2 separate regions of the Homo sapiens genome follow, and region 2 is linked to region 1. Evidence: fine-mapped expression QTL. A gene starts in region 1. The other region holds a variant in brackets. All regions are shown on one strand. Distances are from middle to middle.

Region 1 (8,514 bases):
CAAAGGGCAAAGCCTTCCTGGCTTGATCTGTCACAAAGGGTCCTCTTATCACTTGTAGCCTGAGCTGTCTGCCCCTAAATGTCCATATCAAGGTCAATACCCTCTCCTGTGGCCCACATTTTCTTGAGTCTATACCCACCCTCCAGGAGCTTGGGCAGAAAGTGGGCAGCTGCCTTGGTCTTCTTAACTCGGTTTCCCTTCATGACCTGGCCCTCCTTGTCCAGGCCGAGGTACCAGGCCCGGCCAGAACGACGCTGGCGGTAGAGAGCAGAGGCGTACAGGACGTAGTAATTCTCAAAGACACACTCCTTAAAGCGACACTCAGCTGTGAAATGCGGCTAAGGAGACAAAGACCCAGAAAGGCGCACAAAGACAGAGAGATAAAAAGACACATCACTGGGCAGAAAGGAGCTCATGGAAAGCACAAATCCTTTTTGGGGGAGGGGGAGGACAACTTCTGAGTCCATGTAGGACCTGGGAGCAAAGGGAGGACAAGGAAGAGGGCTGAGGGCTAAGAACTAGGCTCTGGGCCAAGCACAGTGGCTCATGCCTATAATCCCAACACTTTGGGAGGCCGAGGCGGGTGGATCACCTGAGGTCAGGAGTTCCAGACCAGCCTGGCCAACATAGCAAGACCCTGTCACTATTTAAAAAAAAAAAAAAGAACTAGACTTTTAGGGGTCTTGCAATAAGATTCCTTCTCTCCACTGTACTCCCAGTCTCTCACTATCCCCTATCCTGGATGACTCTAGGGAAGTGAGTAATGACAAAATCTGGAGGAGGTGGGATAAGAAGTAGGGGCCCTAAAAGGCAGAAAGAGTTGGACATTCAAAGAACCTGGGGCTGTTTTGGGGGTGTGCAAGGAGTGGGGACTGGAGAGACCCTAGAGGAGCTGGTCTGGAATGGGCAGCGATGACAGGCCATCAGCAAAGCTGGAGGGAGGAGTCCCGGGCAAAATGTCTGTAGTTGAGGAAGGTTGTCATTCCCTCAAGGGACAAATTGAGGAAGGGGAGTCCCCAGTATTTCCCGGCCACTCAGCCTCATTGTCTCACCGAACTGTAGAGCAGTCCCTCAGCATTCATGGCCATGTAGTGACCCAGCTTGGCGCTCTGGATGGTGACCACACGGAGGCCCACAGGGATCAGGTTGAAGTGGGCTGCAGGTGGAGAGAGGGAGCATCAATACCCAGGCCTCTGACCCTCACCTGAGCTCCCCTCATCCCAGCTCCACTTTTTCCCTTAGAGGTCAGGAAGACGGATCAATGGCAACAGAAGCTGAAGAGGGAATAGGATTGTCATCTCCTGTCCCCATTCTCCCCCTTCCCACCCTGCAGCCAGCTTCCCCTCTCACTGAAGGAGCTGGTATCCTCTGGGGTGCCCTGGATGCTTCCGTCGGGATTCGCCTGGAGGTAGAAACCCTGGCGGCAGAACAGTTTGGTGACGATGCCTTTGAGCTGAGGCTCTGGAGAGAGAGACATTCATCTTTGAAAATGACATCTCCGTTCCCAGAAACATTCCTACACTTGGCAGGATTAGAGGGAAGAAAGGAGAATGAAAGGAAGGAAGAGGGTCCCAGGGCCCCAGCTCTCTTATCCTCCAAGCACGCTCTCTCCCACCTCTCTTTCACTCCTGGGAAAGCTGGTGTGGGTCCCTTCTGTTTCCTATAACCAGGAGCTTTCAGTGTAATTTATTGAAATTTATTTAAATGGCTTAATTCCTACCCTACAGCTCAACCAGAAGGGGGAAGGAGTGGGGGAGGAGGGAGGGGAGAGATATATCAAAAGGCAGGGACAGAGGGAGACCAGCAGGGGTACTGAAGGGGCAGCGTGTTTGCGAAGGTGGGGGATCTTGGCAGCAGCAAATTGACCACAGGGTAGGGGCTCTCCCTCAGGAGTGGGGGTGGGACTGGGCCTGACGCTGACTCAGCACCTGCTGCGGCTGCCGCTAGCTTGGCGAGAGCCTTGCCTTGGCCCAGCGCCGGCCTGTCTGACACTGACCCATCTGTCTGTCTGTCTGTCTGTCTGTCAGTCCGCTGGCTCCCGGGGGCCCAGTTCTCCCTGAGGCTCAGCCTCTCCCCTTCGGCCAGGTAACTCGCCTGGGGTAAGGGGGACCTTACCAAGGATATGGGGGGTGGGAGCTGAGGAGATGGAGAGGCAGGCTGAGTCACGTGGGGGCCCGGTCCTACTCAGAGGGTGGGCTGCGGATTGTACCACTATGGGCAGCCGGTGGCGCGGGGAGGAGGGCGCGAGGTGGCTACCCTTAGGGGAGCTGGGAGCGGGCGGGAGCAGGGCCAGAGGGACTCCCTGACTGTCGTACATGGACGGGGACCAATTCTAACTCTCACAACTCTCCTCCCCCATCGCTTGCTCTCTGCCGACTTCCCTGTCCCCCCTTGTAGGTGGTACGACCCCCGAGTCGGCGCCCATCTCTAGCCGTGAACTGTGTCTGAGTTCCTGCCAGCGTAGGGTCCCCTGAGCCTACGGGACCCGATTTCGGAGTGGCGCGGGGGTTATGGGAGGGGTGCCCAGCTCCGTTCTTGAAGCGCAGGTCACAGGAGGAGGGCGCATAGAGGGCTGGCTGGCGAGGTAGCTGCAAGGACACCCGAGGGAGAGCTGGGGAGATTGGCTCGGAGCCAGCAGAGCTCGACCAGGAGGAACCGAGCCCAGGCGTGGAGGAGCGGGAGAACCGGGGCAGGCGGGGGCTGGGGGGGGGCGTGCGGCTGGAGCTGCAGAAATCCTTGGGGTGACCCAGGCATCTGGAAACCCCCGGGCCCCTCCGCTCCAGATTGAAAGAATCGCGAGAACCGGCACGTAGGCGGAGGACGATGGGGGTGGGGACTGCTGTGTTGGGAAGGGGGGACGAGCAGGAACTACGAGGCTTTCGGGGCGCCAGGCAGCCCCTCAAGCCTTCCCCTTGACCTCGAAAATAAGGAGACTCCGGGTTATGGACAAAAGAGAAGGGAAACTGAGGCACAGTCTGGCAGGGACTTTGTCGTCCTGGCCCACCCCCTTCCACTTTCGGGGAGCCCCTCAGCCGGGCCCTATTCTTCAGAGTCCCTGGCCTCAATCTCCCAGGCAGAGAAACCTCTGGCCGGGAGACCCCGCCCCAGCCGCACTCACCCGGGCCGCGGTCCGGCCGCGCGGGCCGCCCCCCGCACAGTCGCACCTTGGACAGCAGGATGAGGAGCTGCTTCTGGCAAAGGGACTTGGTGCCGCGGGGACACACGCGCCGCTGCGCCGACACCGGCCGGCTGCCCCCGGGCTCGCGGACCTCCCGCTTCTGCCGGATCAGGCTACTGGCCAGCGCCGCCATAGCGCCCCGGGAGGAGACACCCCCAAACCGGCAGGCGCCCGGAGCGCGCTGGGCTCCCCCAGAGGAGCCCGCTCACTAGGGCATGCTCTTGACGCTCAGGCCCCGACTCGCTGCCCCACCCACAGGACCTGAGGATAAGCCCCAGACCCCCCCCCTCACGTACCCCCCTCCACAGCAGCCAGTTACCACCCGTGGGCCCAGTGCTGGCTCCACCAGATCCAGCAGCCTATGTACTCCTCAGTGGATCCCACCCTCGAGTTTTGCCTCCTATTGAAAACGTCCCCTTTCCCTCCTCTCCAGTGTCTGTCCTCACTTCACCTATCCCAAAGCCAAGACCCACTAAATTTCCAAGACGTGGTTTAAATATCTTCAGGCACCTTTCCACTGTATTTTGGGGCACACTCCTGCCAAATCCACTCTTGTAATCTACAGGGTGTGGGACTTTAGCTTTGGGAATATTCGCTCATCCCACCCCTACTGGGGCACTGCCAATGTCAGGAAGGAACCCAACCTTGGTGTTTTTTCCTTTGCTACACTCTAAATGGAGGGGATCCCCCACTTTTTTCACTGAAATCCCCCCAAAATATGTCTCAGAATATCCAGGTTGCCCAGGTTCAGTAAGACAGGGCTCCCAGACCCTCTGGCTGGATAATACCTTTTTCACCAAGTCCCCCCCATGTCTAGTAGCATAGAATTCTAGCGGCCAAGACCCTTTCTTCACCTTCACACCCTCCGCTCCTTTTGAAGTCACCTCCAAATCCACCCTTCCTAGTGGATACACCAGGTAGTTGACTGGAGGGCCTTCCGCCACCTCAAAATGAGGAGCATCCGTGTTTGTTTTTGTTTTTGTTTTTTTCTCCCCTGGCTGCCCCTTAAATTTTCTTGGGGACAGCTGGTGCTGTTTAGATCCCACGCCCTCCAATCTAACCAGCCCCCCAAGAGAGGAGTGCACCCACGTTGTCACCAGTCCCCAGATGTGAACAGGCCCCCTACAAGTCAGAGCGGATCACAGCTTCCTGCTACAGGGCTTCCTCGTCCTCCCCGGGATTGCCTATAGCACCCCCTCTTCCTTTTCCCGACGCCCCTCAACCTGTCCTGTCCTGTTGATCCGGCGACGGGTGGCGCTGGCTTCGGCTCCAGGCTCCTCCCTCCCTGTCCCCCGCAAACGGAGCTTCCCCCCACGCCCGGCTAGGCGTCCCGGACCCTCGGGAAGGAGTGAGGGTGTCTCTGCAGAGCTCCCCGGTCCGGCGAAGTCAGAGCACTGGGCCGGTGGCTGGACCAGGCAGAGCGGCGGCAGCGGCAGCGGCTGTGGGAAGCTGAGGCGGCGGCGGCGGCGGCGACAGCAGTTCCCCCTCCTCGGAGAGCCGGCCCGGGGGCGGGGCAGGGGGCGGAGACGCTGGGAAATAGGAGGGTGAAGCCGGGCAGGAGGAACCCCGGGGTTCCTTGGAGGTAGAGAGTGCGGACTGTGTCTTACAAGCAGGCAAAGCCGAGGCAAGGCCGCACGTCTCAGCCTTCAGAGGAGGAGGGACAGGAAGGCCTCCTGAACGCACCCCTGGGTAGGAAGGAGAGGTTGGGCCTAAGGGAGATGGAATGGCGGACGCTGGGAGAAGGGAGAGAGACCCTACTGGCCGGGATGTTAGTGAAGAAAGAACCGCACGAGTAAAGTGGGGGAAGAACTGGAGAGATGGAGGATGGGGGGTGGTGAGATCCAGCCTTGGGCGAAATCCGGCCTCCTTCATATCTCTGCCGTTGTGTGAGCCAAATTGATCAGACCCTGGTCTCCATAACTCCTTTTCGCGTTTGGTCAGCAAATATGTTTCTCCCATTTCTATTGGCCCTTAAGAGAAATGACCAAAAGAACTGGGGACAGACGGTTTCTGGAAGCTGCCCCTGGGCGGAGTGCTGGCCACAGATGTGGAGAATAGCGAGGCTGGAATGGGGCAACTTGTGCGGGGGCAGGCGGGTGGGCGTAGAGGAGGAACCAACAGGGAGGTCTTCCAGAAGGGGGGCTTCAGGCCCAGGGCACACAGTCAGTCCCCCTGGCGAGGGGCGAGCAGGGCCCCCCACGTCCCGCTCGCCCACAGAGGCACTTTCCACTGGTAGGAACAGCGTCTTTAATGGGCCCCGCCCCCCACGCCCGCCAAACCGCCCCCCTTGCGGGCCACTTTGGCCTCCTCCACCGCGGCACGGAGGGCCCGGGCCGGGTCCCCGCGGAGCCGGGCCAATTCTCCGAGCAGCGCAGCGGAGTCGTCCCCCGTACGGAGCTGTCGGCCGTTCAGAAAATAGTGAGGCAACGTCCCGGCCTCGAGCACTCGGCCGAGCTCGTCTAGCAGCCCGAGGCAGCAGGCGCCCGCATTTTCTGGCCGCGCCAGGTAGAGCGCAGGCAGCCGCTCGCACGCCCAGTACAGCAGCGTCCGCAGGAGGTAGGGCGCCGCCGCCCGGGTCCCGGCCACCAGCGGGCGCAGTAGCGCCTGGGCCGCCGCGTGCGCCTGCAGCAGCGGCGCTGGTATGCGCGCTTTGAGCGCCAGCTCCTGGCGGGCAAAACAGAGCTGCCAGGCGGAGGCGCACGGCCGCTCGGTGCCGCCACCGGGCACCAGGTAGAAGGAAGCCGACTCAGAGGCCAGCGGACCGGCCCACGAGTGGCTCCGAGCCCCCTCGGGCCAGCCCGCCACGGACACCACTGGGATCAGGTCGAAGAGCAGGAGGCGGCGAGGGGGCTCAGGGGTAGCCAGGAGGACGGTGGTGAAACCCGCGTGGCGAGCTGCGTGCACCAGACGCGGAGCACCCGGGACAGGGATCAGAGACTCGGCGACCGCCGCCAGCGTAGCAAAGAACCAGGCAGCCACCTGGGCGGAACATAATGTGGGCCACGCTTCCCGAGCCTCCGACGGCTTTGGGACTGGGCTTTCGACGGCTGCCTTGGTGACGTCACTACTCATTGTTTTCAAAGGTGCGGTAGAGCCAAGGTCGACGACGTCATGCTGAGGCGACTCGGACGCTGAAACGTCACTAGGCGATTTTTCCAAAGACACCGGCGCCTCGTGCTCAGTGACGTAGCTGTGCGGCTGGTCTACAGAGCTTTGCCAGTCCTTGGAACTTTCTTCGCTCTCCGTTCGGTGGATCGAATCACGTGCTCCTGGGACTGGGGGTCCTAAGCAATCCTGCCACATCTCCCGGATGGGGGTTCCGCACACCATCTCTGGGAGGCAGACCTGTGCGTAACAGGATTCCAGGTCCAGTTGCAGTTCAGTGCCGTCCAGTGAAAACATGGGCACTAGGAGTGTGAAGCCGGCATCGTAGTGAGGTCCCCGGGCGTAGGGACCCAGGGGTGCATGCCCCAGATCCAGGGAGCCCTCGCGAATCCCACCACGAAGCAGCAAGAGCTCTGCCTGGGGAGGAAAGCGAGGGTCCCGGCGGTGAACTAGACCTAAAAAAAGGGAACGGATCGTGAGGGCGTCGCCCAAAGCCGGGGCGGGGGCGGGGGCGTGGTGAGGCTGAGAGCTGTGAGTTCCCAAAGGCAAGTAGGGTTACTTACCAAGCAAAGAGAAGACAAAGTCCTTGGCCCGGAGGAGATCGGCTCCCGGCTTGGGCCCGTCACTCCAGCTCTCCTGCACACCCAGCTCCTGGATCAGCTGGGTCAATTCCTGCAGCTGCGCCCCGGAGCAGAAGTCGATGTCCGTGAGCGGCCGAGCTGGGGCCGGGGGCGGCGGGCCCCACCAGGGGGCACTCCCCCAGACTGCGGAAGCCATGCGGTTCTATCGCTTTGGGCTGCGGAAAACACGGAAGGGAGGTGGCTTTGCTGCCACAAAGTCGTCCCCGTTCTTCCCTCTTCCTGAGGCCGAGCGAGTGCCCCAGACACAACCTACAAATGGGTCTGTAGATGATGGGTTCTAAATTTAGTCCTCAAAATGAACAAATAAATACCTCTTCTATCCTGGCCCTTTTCTCATAGGCAGGTCCCCGCCCCCATGAACTGGTTCACCGGACTCAGCAGGTAAAAAGTAACTGTTGGCTCCTCCTACGGAATGCAGTAGCCAGCCTCCGCTGCCGCCCCTTGTCTACCTCCCTTTACCTCTTTTTTGGAAGAGGCTTATTAGTCTGCGGCTTCCCCCTTATGGGAAGCAGTAAGGGTGGGGAGCAGAAATAGATTCAACAGGTTACTTCTTCCTGATGCCCACGTGGCCACGCCCCTACATTTTCAGCCACGCCCCTTTCTGGAGGCTGTCGAGGTGGTTTCCGCCGGGTCGGGTCGCCAGTCAGAGCTCAATCACTCTTTTGGCCCTGCTGAAATCCCGCGTTATCCTGGGAGTTGTAGTTTCCCGCTCTACTAGGGCGTGGTAGCCACGCCCCCACATCCTTTCCTGTTCCGCTGAAGTAGTGCCTGATGGAAGTTGTAGTTCCTCTGGAGACAGATTATTCTGTGTCTTTTCACACCCATATCAACCCCACTCAAACATTCCTTGGGGTTTGAGAGGGGTAATAGGATGGCTCTGAGTCGCAAAAAATAATGAGGGATGGGCCGGGCGCGGTGGCTCCCGCCTGTAACCCCAGCACTTTGGGAGACTGAGGCGGGTGAATCACCTGAGGTCAGGAGTTCAAGGCCAGCCTGGCCAACATTGCGAAACCCTGTCTCTACTAAAAATACAAAAATTAGCCGGGCGTGGTGGCAGACGCCTGTAATCCCAGCTACTTAGGAGGCTGAGGCAGGAGAATCACTTGAACCTAGGAGGGAAAGGGTGCAGTGAGCTGAGATTGTGCCATTGCACTCCAGCCTGGGTGATAAGAGCGAAACTCCACCCTAGGGCCTGGGGAGAGATAGGGACCCCTGCCTGGGTGGGGTGGGGGGGGTGCATCTTGGAATCCCAAAAGTGGTAGTGTTAGGCAGGAGCACACAGATGGTGACCCAGAAATGGACGTTTGACTCATAGGAGAGACATACATGTTAGTGATGCCCACCTCAGCTCACTGCTACCTGAGTCGTGGCAGGGAAAACACTTTGGGATCTCAAATTTTTGTTTTGTTTTGTTTTGTTTTTGAGACTGAGTCTCGCACTGTTGCCCAGACTGGAGTGCTGTGGCGCAATCTCCGCTCACTGCAACCTCCACCTCCCGGGTTCAAGCAGTTCTCCTGCCTCAGCCTCCCGAGAAGCTGGGATTACGGCGCCTGCCACCATACCTGGCTAATTTTTTGTATTTTTAGTAGA
Region 2 (8,000 bases), 330 kb before region 1:
GACAAGATGGATTTGTTCTGTGCATTCAACAAAGGGATCATTGTTTTTTTGGCTTTGCTTATAAATTGTTACGGAATATAATTCTGTCAATTATTTCAAATAGTATCAGTTGTTGTCATTCAACTTTGCATACCATAACTTTTCATGTTTATCTTTTATCAGAATAATTAAAATTATTTTTATTGATGTGTATACTGAAGGCTCTTGGGAAAATGAAGCACTGTTAAGACTAGCCCTAGGTAAAATAAAGAGGTCCTCTGCACCCCCACCAGAATTCTTCTGCACAGGATGCCCATTCTAGGTGCCCGCTGTCAAACCTGACTCCCTGATTGTCTACCCCAGTCTCCCCCAGTCGACCAGGCCTCACTATGTGTTCATCTTGCCGTGTGTTCATCCCTTTCTTCCCCATACCCTACCCCATCCCATGGCTGAAGGCTAGTTAATCTGCTAAAAGAAAGTCAACGTAGGCTGGGCTCAGTGTCCCACACCTGTAATCCCAGAACTTTGGGAGGCTGAGGGAGGTGAATCACCTGAGGTCAAGAGTTCAAGGCAGCCTGGCCAACTTGGTGAAACGCCATCTCTACTAAAAATAAAAAAATTAGCCAGAGGTAGTGGCACACGCTTGTATTCCCAGCTACTTGGGAGGCTGAAGCAGGAGAATCATTTGAACCCGGGAGGCAGAGATTGCAGTGAGCCGAGATCGCACCACTGCACTCCAGCCTGGGCAATGTGCAAAACTCTGTCTCAAAAAAAAAATTTTTTTTAATAAATAAATAAACTCATCTGACTGATTCCATATCCCATGCTCTTAACCACTACATTATTATACTCCACTCAAATATTTGTTGAGTTTAATTTACAGAATTATGATCTAATGCTTAGAAGAGGTGATGGAGATGGGAAATGTTAGGAGAGCTGGGGGCATCAGTCTTTTTAATAAATGAAGCACGCAACCATGACCAAGCAGAGTGCCTGCCGAGGCTGTGTCAGGGCAGGAGCCCTGGAGCTCTGACCTGGGTGATGGGTGCTCCGGAGAGCATTGTTGTCCTTGTTCATCCTGTCCATGATGGCTTTCCAGTTGCTGTTGACCTGGTCAAATAAGGTCGATTCATTGGGCAGCTGCTTGCGGATGTCTTCTCCTAGGAAGATATTCTGAGGGGGCCAAAAGTTGGGGTGAGAGGCCACTTCTTACACACTCTCCACCCTCTGCTCCCTGTTCCCAGATTGTGGGTGACAGTTGGGTAGAAGATACAGAGTGCTAGAAGTCAAAGGCCAAGATGCCCAAGTTCTACAAGGAAAGCTGGAGGTAGGGGGCCAGCTACCTGGGTCTAAGAAGAAAAATGGAAGAAAAATCTGAGAAGAACAAAAACTTGTTACGGAGGGAATCTAAGGTGAGAGGTAATAACTAAGAATCAGACAGCTGGGTCCTAGATGAAGAGTGACTTTAAAGGTAGGAGAATGAGGCTGATAACAGGGCAAAATCTAGGTCTTAAGAAAAAGAAGGAGTAAGAGCAGGAAGCAGGAAGAGCTCAGGCGCTGAGTCCTGACCTCTAAGTACATCCACTGACGCTGCACTGTGAGAATCATCTCAATAACCTCCAAAATGAGGGAGAGGCAGCGTTCCCAGTGGTCCACATCCTTCTCAAAGGCCTTGACAAAGCGTGATGCCTTCATGGTAGACAGAGCTACCTGGTTATCTTCCAGTGCCTGGAATACTTCTTCTGTACCTCTGAGACACAAGGGGTCAAAATCATAGTTCATCCCCACCTGCCCAACCTTGGTCCCACTCTGCAGCCTGGGTCACACAGCCCTCCATTCTCCTAGAGCCCCAGCTCCCCTGACCTGAGCCGATGATGGCCCTTATCCTTGTAGGGTACTATGTCGAGCTGAGTCACATCCCAGGTCTTGGCAATGTTTTGTAAAGCCTGTGGAGAGAAATTGGGGGACACAGCAGTCAGGTATCTCTTCACTAAGGGGAACAGGAGCTGAGAGGCGCCATCAGATGATGAACAGCTGGAGCCTGTGCTCCAGGAGGCGCAGGAGGTGTGGGAGCATGGGAGGGGACTGTCGTACCACTTCTATAGCCAGCTCTTTAGTTGCTGAAGCAGAGATCTCCCCAATTTTCTCCACATGCTGATCCATCCCAAGCTCCACAATCTGCTCCAAGGTGAAGCTTTCAGATTCCTGATCAAACTCCCGCTGGATCTCATCCCGGACCTGGTCCCAGTGCCTGCAGCCAGGAACAGGAGGGTGTGAGGTCAGGAGAGTTACCATCACTCCATTGCTGTCTCCCACTGGGACACTATGATTCTGCATAGTTACCAATTCATGATTCAACTCATTTTGCTAAACAGGCTCGAAGATGCAATCTTAGGCACCAGGGGAATACGAAGATTGAGGTGAAACCCTCCAGGAGTGGATTCTCTGGAGAGGAAGTTAAGGCAGGTGTGCCCACAAAACACACAATGAATCACCGCAGGTTTACTCTAGAACTGTACTGAGTAAAGGCCTTACATGAAACATCTCATATCATTCTCACGGCTACTCTATAAATTAGGAATTATTATTATTCCATTTACAGATGAGAAAACTGAGGCTTAGAGAGGTTAAATAATGTAAGCAAATAAAGTGGTTAGGTTATACATAACCGTATAACACTTAATGGTTTGGCATTGCCAAAAACGTTATACTGGAAGAAAGACAAAGAAGTAAAATTATTTTCTCTTAAATGGATAGATCATGATTGAAACACCATTTATAAAAATTACTTTATTTTTATAAATCTATCCCCAATGGTTTGAGATACATCCTCTGCCATATAATAAATTCCAGATGAATTAAAAGAGTTAAACCTGAGAAACACAAAGCATTAGAGGAAAGAATGAAGAGGATGTATTTGTAACTTTGGGATAGGAAAGGTCTTCCTAAACAAGGCACAAAGGCAAAAACCATACAGAAAGAAAGTTATACTTCTGGCTACCTCAAAATAAAATCTTTTGTATAACAAAAGACATAAGGCGGGACGGGCACGGTGGCTCATGCCTGTAATCCCAGCACTTTGGGAGGCCAAGGCGAGCGGATCACTTGAGGCCAGGAGTTCAAGACCATCTTGGGCAACATGGCAAAACCCCATCTCTACTAAAAATACAAAAATTAGCAGAGCATGGTGGCAGGTGCCTGTAATCCCAGCTACTTGGGAGGCTGAGGCACAAGAATTGCTTGAACCCGCGAGGTGAAGGTTACAGTGAGCCGAGATCACAGCACTGCACCCCAGCCAGGGCAACAGAGTGAGACTTTGTCTCCCCCACAAAAAAAGGAAAAAAAAAGACATAAGACTTAGTCATGATAGACAACTCCCTTTCAGAGAGAGGGAGGCCCCAGGGCAGGGGTCAGAGAACAAGAAGCCAGCAAGGCTGGATGACCCGAGACAGTGCAAG[A/C]AGCAGAGGACAGTGGCAGGCTTGGTGTCTGCGCCACATGTTCGCTGAGCACTATTTGCAATAGCTAAGATGTGGAATCACCCTAAGTGTCCATCAAGCGATGAATGGAGGATGAAAATGTGGTGTATATATACAAAGAAATACTCTTCAGCCTCAGGAAAGAAGAAAATCCTGTCATTTGCAACAACATGGAAGAACCTGGAGGACATTATGCTAAGCGAAATAAGCCAGGCGAAGAAAGACAAACACCGCATGATCGCACTCATATGTCATATGTAAAGTCTGAACAGGTTGAACTCACAGAAGCAGAGTCGAGTGCTGGTTACCAGGGGCTGGGGGTGGTAGGTGGAAAGTTCGGGAGGTGTTGGTCAAAGGACACAAAATTTCAGTTAGACAAGAGGGATGATCTCCTGTACATCACGGCAACAATGGTTAATAACAATCTATTGTATACTTGAAAATCACTGAGAGTAGCTTTTCAGTACTCTCACTACAAAAAATAGGTATGTGAGGTAATGCATATGATAATTAGCTCAATTTAGCCATTCTACAATGTGTACATATTTCAAAACATTATGCTGTACACCAAAGTGTATGCAATTTTCATGCGTCCATCAAAATTAAATGTTAAAAAGAGGAAAGAGAAAAAGACATACATTTGTGGACAGAGGGGAAGAGAGGGCTGTGAACACTGCGGAGAGGAGAATGGGAGGGACCAAGTGGTGGCGCAGGCCAGCGGGGCAGAGTGGACACCCCGGAGCAGAGGAGAAGCCTCACCTCTCTCTAAGGGCAGGGTTCCGCAGGTCTGAGATGAGAGGCATGGTCCTCTTGAACTGCTCTATTTTTGAGCGAGTGGTTTCAATAATTTCCCAGTTTCGGTCCTGAGCAAAAGTTGGGGGCATGAGAAGACCCGACGACCTCCCTGGGAACAGACCCAGATCCTCCACCAGCTTCTCTTCCGCCTCCCCGCCGTTTCTCCCCACCTTATACTCTTTGGCTAATTTTGTGAGGCGACGAAACAGCCCGTGGGCCGTGGTCTCCATGGTTTCCGTCTGCAGGATCAGGAACCGGCCAGTCTTCCACTCATTCCAGTTCTCCTCCCAGTCTCGTGCGATCTCCCAGATTTGCTGGAGGGCATCGAGCTCCTACAGGGCAGAAAGGCGCGTTGCATGAAGTGGCACCTGCCCTCTTCCTCCCTGACGGACGCCCAGGCCCTTCGCTGCTCTCGCTCTGTGAAGCTTCCCCTCTAGATAATACAGCGGCCTCCTCAGTCCACATATTTTTCTCCACTCTGTTGCCTTAAGAGCTTATCAAGGAACAAGCACATGAAAAAATCCTCAATGTCATGAGTCATTAGGGAAATGCAAATCAAAACCTCAGTGGGATGCCACTTCACACCCGCTAGGATGGCTAGAACCAAAAAAAAAAAAAAAAAGGTAAATAAGTGTTGGCACGGAGATATGGAGAAATAGGGAGACTTGTACACTGCTAGTGGGAATGTGAAACGGTGCAGCTGCTGTGGAAAATGGCTTGGCAGCTCCTCAAAAAGTTAAACATAGAGTTTCCATATGATCTAGCAATTCCACCCCTAGGCTTACACTCACAAGAATAGGGAACAGGTGTTCAGACAAATACAAGTACACGCGTGTTCATGGCAGCACTACTCCCTTTAGCTAAAAGGTGGAAACAACCCAAATGTCCATCAACTGGTGAATGGTAAACAAAATGTGGTAAACTCATGCGATATTCAAATATGAATATTCAGCCATTTAAAAAAGTACTGATCCATGCCACACCATGGATGAACCTTGAAGACATTATGCTAAGCGAAAGAAGCCAGATTAAAAAGGCCACGTATTATCATACAAATGGTTCCATTTGTATGAAGTGTCCAGAATAGGGGAATCATACACATGGAAAACAGGCTCATAACAGACTGGGGCGGGGGACGGGGGACTGGGGCGGGGGACGGGGGATGCACGTGACTGCTAATGGGCAGAGTTTCCTTTAGGGTAATAAAAATGTTTGGGAATTAGATAGATGTGGTATGAATTACTAAACGTCACGAATTGTTTACTTCAAAATGGTTAATTTTGGCAGGGCGTGGTGGCTCACACCTGTAATCCTAGCACTTTGGGAGGTCGAGCCAGGTGGATCACCTGAGGTCAGGAGTTCGAGACCAGTCTGGACAATATGGTGAAACCCCATCTCTATACTAAAAATATAAAAATTAGCCATGCATAGTGGTGGATGCTTGTAATCCCAGCTACTCGGGAGTGTGAGGCATGAGAATCGCTTGAACCCGGGAGGCAGAGGTTATAGTGAGCCGAGATTGTGCCACTGCACTCCAGCCTGGGTGAGAGAGCAAGACTCTATCTCAAAAAAAAAAAAAAAAAAAAAAAAAGGATTAATTTTGTTGTATGAATTTTACCTCAACTGAAACAAACAAAAGCTCCTTGTGAGCTCCTCTCCCTTCCCACTGCCTTTGTGGGCGCTAAGGACCCATTCTCCTGTCCCTGCCCCTTATCGACAGTGACCACAGGGTCCTTGCTCAGCACACCACCTTCTCCAGGTTCTGAAGGTCCTTGGAGGGTGGCTGCTCGATCTTGAAGATGCCCAGGTTGGCTCGGAGACTATTTTCCTCTTCCCGCATGGCCATCAGCATGGCCCGCACTTGTGTAATCTGGTCTAAGGCAGACATGTATCCCACGTTGCTGGTGAAATGGCCTGTGGAGGATTCAGGATGAAGCTCAGCTTCCCGCTCACGTCTGGCAAGGACAGCCATGGCTCTCCTATCTCTTTGTGGGCAAATCTCACCTCTCTCCTCACGTGAGAGAGGGAAGGGAAGGAGAGTAAGAGGGAACGCGTTGAAAGAATAACGGTTAATCTTAGCAAAAACTCCTAAATGTGGCTTGAGAGTCAGGAACAGATGGAATATGGAAGTCGGGATAAGAAAAGTAGAAATGCGGGCCGGGCGCGGTGGCTCACACCTGTAATTCCAGTACTTTGGGAGGCCGAGGCAGGCAGATCACAAGGTCAAGAGATCAAGACCATCCTCGCCAACATGGTAAAACCCTGTCTGTACTAAAAATACAAAAATTAGCCGGGTGTGGTGGCATGTGCCTGTAGTCCCAGCTACTCGGGGAGGCTGAGGCAGGAGAATCGTTTGAACCTGGGAGGCGGAGGTTGCAGTGAGCTGAGATCGAGCCACTGCACTCCAGCCTGGTGACAGAGCGAGATTCCATCTCAAAAAAAAAAAGAAAAAAGAAAAGTAGAAATGCTGTGAGCTGCGCCGCTGTCTACCCAAAACGAGAGCCACTGAGTGTCCTCCTCCTTTGCTCCTGAGTGGAGGCTCTTCCCCCACCCCAGCACCGACCCTCCTCCTCCCCTCCCAGTTCTCGCCTTCCCAGGACCTGGGCTTGGAAGGCGGGGTCTCTAAACAAAGGCTAAAGAAGCGGGAGAGGTGGATCAAGGAGTACCTTTGAATTCGAAATCTTCCAGAAGTGTATGTGCTTTCTTCTTGAAGTCATCTGCCGAGTGGATCAGGCCTGTCTTGAATTTCTCCTTGTGTTTCTTCAGCATTTGCTTACTGTCCAGCAGAGTTTGTTGGAAGACAACCCACTCCCCGTTGAGACTGTCCAGCATCTCCAGGACCTGGGGGAGTCAGAGAGTGGAGGATGACCAGGAGCAGGAGGTCTGCCCTCTCATGCGTGGAGGATGACCAGGAGCAGGAGGTCTGCCCTCTCATGAGTGGAGGATGACCAGGAGCAGGAGGTCTGCCCTCTCATGAGTGGAGGATGACCAGGAGCAGGAGGTCTGCCCTCTCATGCGTGGAGGATGACCAGGAGCAGGAGGTCTGCCCTCTCATGAAAGTTTTTAAGGACTCTTTTCTGATCCTCCAGACCAGAGTCTGGGGACGAGTTTTGCACATGTGACAAGGGCTAAAAAAATCAAGGTGTGAGTTTGCCAGGCCTAAAAGAAACCCTGGCCGGGTGTGGTGGCTCACGCCTGTGATCCCAGCACTTTGGGAGGCCAAGGTGGGAGGATCACTTGAGGTGCCTGTAGTCCCAGCTACTCAGGAGGCTGAGGTGGGAGGATCGCTTGAGCCCAGGAAGTTGAGGCTGCAGTGAGCCATGATTGCACCACTGCACTCCAGCCTGGGTAATGGATGGAGGCCCTGTCTCAAAAAAAAAAAAAAAAAAAATCCAAAAGCTGTATATCTGAGAATGAGGCCAAAACCAAAAAAAAAAAAAAAAAAAAAAGTAAATACAGTAAGTAAATCCAGCTGGGTGCGGTGGCTCACACCTGTAATCCCAGCACTTTGGGAGGCCGAGGTCAGCAGATTGCTTGAGTTCAGGAGTTTAAGACCAGCCTGGGCAACAAAATGAGACCCCCATCCCTACAAAAAATACAAAAATCAGCAAGGCGTGGTGGCGTGTGCCTGTGTTCCCAGCTACTTGGGAGGCTGAAGTAGGAGAATCACTTGAGCCTGGGAGGCAGAGGTTGCAGTAGGCCAAGATCGTGCCACTGCACTCCAGCCTGGGTGACAGAGCCAGACTCTGT

Evidence for each region. PIP is the estimated chance that this variant, and not a neighbour inherited with it, causes the effect.
Region 2: its variant is fine-mapped to the expression of FGF11 in whole blood (TOPMed, PIP 0.92).

The regions. Positions count from the first base shown.
Region 1 is chr17:7,434,418-7,442,931 of GRCh38, reverse strand. It overlaps FGF11 (fibroblast growth factor 11), which reads right to left and starts at 3,420. Exons shown (of 5, transcript NM_004112.4): 1 at 3,119-3,420; 2 at 1,351-1,461; 3 at 1,053-1,156; 4 at 140-338. The coding sequence starts at 3,311. It overlaps TMEM102 (transmembrane protein 102), which reads right to left and starts at 7,497. Exons shown (of 3, transcript NM_178518.3): 1 at 7,236-7,497; 2 at 6,847-7,079; 3 at 5,253-6,738. The coding sequence starts at 7,060. The coding sequence ends at 5,426. RefSeq lists silencers at 2,199-2,308, 3,219-3,318, 4,597-4,696, 5,668-5,947 and enhancers at 3,077-3,610, 3,864-4,772, 4,787-4,886, 5,683-6,592, 7,644-7,813.
Region 2 is chr17:7,764,482-7,772,481 of GRCh38, reverse strand. DNAH2 (dynein axonemal heavy chain 2) reads right to left here. Exons shown (of 86, transcript NM_020877.5): 21 at 6,917-7,091; 22 at 6,001-6,164; 23 at 4,421-4,582; 24 at 4,215-4,318; 25 at 2,074-2,230; 26 at 1,843-1,925; 27 at 1,549-1,729; 28 at 1,014-1,152. Among named protein-coding and RNA genes, the nearest start is that of DNAH2, 51 kb to the right of the region's middle. The variant A/C (reference allele first, on the strand shown) is at 3,438.